Linked DNA regions of Homo sapiens: region 2 is linked to region 1. Evidence: fine-mapped expression QTL. Tissue or cell type: subcutaneous fat. Region 1 holds a variant in brackets; the other region holds the start of a gene. All regions are shown on one strand. Distances are between the middles of the regions.

Evidence for each region. PIP is the estimated chance that this variant, and not a neighbour inherited with it, causes the effect.
Region 2: it holds the start of MAP2K6-AS1, and the variant in region 1 is fine-mapped to the expression of MAP2K6-AS1 in subcutaneous fat (GTEx, PIP 0.95). The same link has a PIP of 0.9 or more in skeletal muscle.

What each region holds. Positions count from the first base shown.
Region 1 is chr17:69,478,757-69,481,525 of GRCh38, reverse strand. All of the region lies in intron 1 of MAP2K6 (mitogen-activated protein kinase kinase 6), which reads right to left. All of the region lies in intron 1 of MAP2K6-AS1 (MAP2K6 antisense RNA 1), which reads left to right. Among named protein-coding and RNA genes, the nearest start is that of MAP2K6-AS1, 5.4 kb to the left of the region's middle. The variant C/T (reference allele first, on the strand shown) is at 1,197.
Region 2 is chr17:69,484,390-69,487,158 of GRCh38, reverse strand. MAP2K6-AS1 (MAP2K6 antisense RNA 1) reads left to right here and starts at 1,627. Exons shown (of 2, transcript NR_145982.1): 1 at 1,627-1,911. The region is part of intron 1 of MAP2K6 (mitogen-activated protein kinase kinase 6); the gene reads right to left.

The sequences.
Region 1 (2,769 bases):
CTCTGTTATGACAGCCCTAGCAAACTAACACACGGGTCTCAAGGAGATATCTGTACACCCATGTTCATAGCAGTATTATTCACAATTGCCAAAAGGTGGAAGCAACCCAAGTGTCCACTGACAGATAAATAGATACACAAAATATGGTATATAAAGACAACATGCAGATGATGGAAGATTATTCAGCCTTAAGAAGAAAGGGAATTCTGACACATGCTACAACATGGATGAACCTTGGAGACACTATGCTAAGTAAAATAAGCCAGTCATAAAATGACAAATACTGTATGATTCCACTTAAACAAGGTACCTGGAGTAGTCAAATTCATACAGACAGAAAGTAAAGTGATGGCTACTAGGGGCTGGAGGAGGGGGAAAAAACTGGGGAGTTACTCTTTAATGAGTGTGGATTTTCAGTTTTATAAAATGAAAAAAGAGTTCTGGGGACAGATGCATACCAATGTGGATGTACTTAATGCCACTGAATTATACTATAATGATTAAGACGATAATTCTATGTTGTTGTGTTTTACCACAATTTAAACATCTTTCAAAAGGGCACAAATGAACTATTATTCTCTCATTTCACATTTCATCTAAACTAAGGTTTAGATGCTAACATTGTTTTCTCAAGTTCTAACAGTTAGTATTCCCATCCAGGTCTGAATCCAAAACCAAGCTAGAAGTACTACTTTCCCATCCTACCATTAAATTTTTCCATTTTAAATAAAATTTTTTAAAAAACTTTTTTTTTCTATTACCTCCAAATTCAGGTTGTTTTCAGATGATTTTGCTTCCCCAACAAGCATTCTGCTTGTTTAGCTACCCTGGAGGTGTACGCTTTCTTCAGAAGTTTACTTGAATCATTCCCATGCTTCCCAATCTCTATATTCCTGATGGCACTATAGCTTCTTGTTTCAGGATCCAAAAAGAGGAAGAATGAAATGGACTTTTTCCAAAATACCCAGTGGCTCTAATGACAGATGCCAAGACAGCTTCCTCCTTGTATGCCAAAGGCTACATTCTCTGCAGTTGAACATATTACTACTTCTCCTCAATTGTCTCAATTTCCAAATACTGTTGGACCAGAAGCTTTGCTCTCTGAAAAGCTGAAACTAGTCCCCGGGGTAAGACTGTGGAGAGTCCTGTTCCCCGTGCTTGCCAAGTGGCAAACAGGTTAGGGCTGGTGAGAAGAA[C/T]GGAATGTCCTGTGAAAAAAAGGAGGGACGTAGAAGTAGCCACAAGCAATAAGGGTTGCTGCCATGGTGTTTCATGTGCTGGGGAACGAAAGTTAAAGAACATGAAGGAGCTCAGGGTACCGATGCAAAATTCTAGGAAATGATGCTACGTTCTTTAGAATGCTCGGCTCTCCAGAACATAAGGCCCTGAATTGCTGGAAGATTTTAAAAAATACTTTTTGCTTAAATTTTATGAACAAATAAAAAAAATTCAACCTGGGAATATCAGATTAATTCTCCAAATCCCTTTATACTGTGAAAGAGCCAAGAGTTAAGTAACTCTGCAGCTAGAGTTGGGAGGCCAAGCCGGGTGGATCACTTGAGGTCAGGAGTTCGAGACCAGCTTGGCCAACATGGTGAAATCCCATCTCTAGTACTAAAGATACAAAAATTAGCCAGGCACGGTGGTGTGCGCCTGCAATCCCAACTATTCGGGAGGCTGAGGCAGGAGAATTGCTTGGAGGCAGGAGAATCGCTTGAACCCAGGAGAGGTTGCAGTGAGCTGAGATCGCACCATTGCACTCCAGCCTGAGCAACAGAGTGAGACTCCATCTCAAAAAAAAAAAAAAAAGAACAAAAGGAAAAGTACATTTCCTGGGCTCAGCTCCCCAAATATTCTCACAGTAAGGCAAAATCAGTGACATAAGCCTCCAAGTCATTGCTCAGATTCTGTCATGTTACTGAAATTTTGTTACATTTAATACAGATTGAATATACTTTATCTGAAATGCTTGGGACCAGAAGTGTTTTGAATTTTTTTTTTAATTTTGGAATATTTGTACATGCACACTGAGATATTTTGGGGATGAAACCCAAGTCTAAACATAAAGTTTATTTATGTTTCACAGACACCCCTTTACACATAGCTTGAAGGTAATTTTATACAATATTTTAAATAATTTTGCACCTGAAGCAAACTTTGTGTTAAGTACCCGAGTGTGGCATTTTTCACTTGTGGCATGATGTTGGTGCTCAAAAAGTTTCACATTTTGGAGCTTTTCAGATTAGGGATGCTTGACCTGTACTGCTTGGAAGAAGTAGGCCATGAACTAGGGCTAAGAATTTTTTTTTATAAAATAAATAGCTACAGCTATTGTAGTCATCTCTTTCATCGCAGAATGCATCCTGTTCTAGATATTCTGGCAGAAGCTGTGATCACCGGTCACACCACACTTCCTTCTGAGTGTTTACACAACCACATTATTTTTCAGTGAATTGAATACTGTATAAGCACAGGCTGAAACACAGCCACATCAGACCTAGAAAGAAAAATGGAGACACACACATTCAATATGCATCTAAGCTCAAAACCTGTCCAAAGTCTTCAACCTCAGAACCTAAGAGAAGTTCGCCCCTGTGCTAGCTCACGGCTGGCTCTGGCACAAGGCAGGCAAATGTCTTACCCAAGGAGCCACATAAGCTAACAGTGCCACCAAGAAAAGAACTGGAAGAGATAAATACATAGCACTTTCATTCACTCATCCTCTCCTCAAATATTTACTCAGTACTTACTATACGTTAGTTAGCACGGGGC
Region 2 (2,769 bases), 5.6 kb before region 1:
AATTCTGGTATCCAAAGGAAAAAGTCCAGGATTAAATCCACTGTACAGGCTTTCTACTCACATGTCCAGGCTCTTCTGGATCACAGAGGCAGGTTATAAAACTGTTTACCAGAAACTGTTTTGACACGACCCAGGTCTATCCAGGGAGATCTAGACTCAATCAAAAAACTAAATTGCCACGACCTTTGCCCAACATATTTTCACCTTCCTGGACTTTGGTTCCTCTGATGCTAAAATGGAAAACGTTTGGGCAATCGACTAGCTGATTTTCTCACTAAACGGTGCTCTGGTGTTTGAGAAGGGTACCACACCAGCTTTACAGATAAGGTCACCAAGTTTTGTATTCTTCAATAGCTCTGTAGTGTGTTTACAAACGAATGCCCCTTCCCTAAGCAGGGGGTTTGGATGACATTGAAAAGCCTATTCCCTACTTGACATAAATTACTTTAGCAGAAGGGTAAGGCTGAAGTGACTATTTGAAAAGTTGTGTCTGCGATCCTTATTTGCAGATGCTGAGCAAGATCAGTGCTGTTTGTATCATGTGTGGCAGTGTCCCCTCTCAATATCAAAGTAAAGGGCTCTTAGTCCCTTAATGGATTCCCTGCTCACCTTATCCCAATGATATTCTCAACCTGATGCTTCTCACTTCCTGGTAGAACACTCATCAGTCTCAGACTAGACTAAACACTCAAGATCACTGAGATTCTGAAATCTGGCTTCATGCCAGAAACCTTAACATTCAAAGTGAAATGAACACACTTAACCAAATACATCTTGATGACTCTCTCAGGGCATTTTCTGTACAGGGAGAACTTCCATCTCTTAATCTCAAGAATGGTACTTTCTCCCCCAAGAAACTGGTCCATTCTCCAATGCCTAAAATATAAACAAACAAAGTGGGACACCAAATAACACTCTCACTGCATCCAGCCCTGTAGCCAGAATACGAGTCTAATTACAGTCGTTGGGCTTCAAGTACCACAACGTGGAAAAACAATTTAGAAAATGCCTTCTCCTCCTTGTGGCCACCCCACTTCTCCTTCACATGCAGAATGCTTCCAAGTATGATATGTTCTAGACTTAATTTTAGCACAAGGCTCTTTGCTTTGTAACTCTGGTCTCTTCATTCAAAGTTTACATAAATGGAAATAGGAAAATACACAGACTTTTCAAAAAAAAGTTGACTGTGAGAAAATAAAAAGATTGTAGTCTATTGAGAAAGACATAAACATCTAAGGAAAGTTTTGATGCTTGGGACTTTTTGTACATTTGTTACTACTTTCTTAAAAAATGATGGGAAATTTGAGCAACTGTCAAGCCAAGAAAAAAAGCCCATGAGGGAAAGGGTCAAAAGAGGCCAGAGAGGTACACAGAAATGATGAAGCAGTGTCCCAAGGGACAACGTGGGATCAAGAACACAGGAGACAGGTAGCCTCAGAGACAGGAGTGAAGGATGTCTCTCTTTAAGACAAGAAGGAAAAGGGGCAAAAGCGGGTGACAAACAGAAAAATCTGATGTGAAGGGAAGCTGTGAGAGGCACTCAGTATAGATGTATAACAGGGTGTTCTGCCAAGATTTCCCATGGGGTCCTAAGCAGCATGAAGCCAAGAAACATTAGGAACAGCCACAATAGGTCAGCAAAGGAGTTCCCGTAGTTTCAAATGAAATTTTACCCAGTACTCTAACAGTGTATAAGCTTCTGAGGAAGTAGTCAATGTTCCATAGAGATAAGAGAAAATTCAAACAGGCAAACAACTCTGCAAGGCTGAATTGCAGGCATGATCTAAAACTTCCTTCTTTCTTCTAAAGGCCTCCTCCGTTCCAAAGTTGCTCATCCTAAAACCTGAAAAAAAAAATGACTCAGAAGTGGTTCCCATCTCAAGAACTACCCACGAGTCTCAGTGGACACATGTGAGTATGAGATGTGAGTATGGGATACTTTTCTAGAGATTTTAGAATGTTTGCTACTGAAGAGTTTGAATTGTTAATTTTAGAGTTGGTCCATGACATTACCTTTGCACTCTGACTCTTATTAAAATACCTTTATTGAGATATAATTTACCTATTCACTTATTTAACATGTATTTCACCTATTTTAATTGTACAATTCAATGGCTTTTAGAATATTCAGAGCTGTGCAACCATCATCACAATCCATTTTAGAACATTTTTATCACCCACATAAAAAACACCATACCCATTATCAGTCACTCCCTCTTTTCCTTCAACACTACCCTTCCCTCTAGCCCCTGGCAACTACTAGCCTACTTTCTGTCTCTACAGATTTGCCTATTCTAGATATTTCATATAATGAAATTATACAATATGTGCACTTTTGTGACTGGCTCCTTTCACTTTGCAAAATATTTTCAAAGTTCATCTGTGTTGTAGCTTGTATCAGTAATTCTTCCTTCCTATTGCTGAAAATATTCCATTGTATAGAATACCTGTGCCACCTTTTATTTATTCATTCATCAGATATGTATTGTTTCCACTTTTTGGCTATTATAAATAATGCTGCTAAGTACATTCATGTACAAGTTTTTTGAGTGAGCATACGTTTTTAATTCTCTTGAGTATATACCTATGAGTGAAATTGCTAGGTCCAACAGTAACTCTATATTTAACCTTTCCTGAACCTGCCAACCTGTTTCTCAAAGCAGCTACACCATGTTACGTTCCCATCAGCAATGTAAAGGGTTCCAATTTCTCCACATCCTCACCTACACTTGTTATTTTCTGTTTTTGTTACAATTGTCATCCTAGATG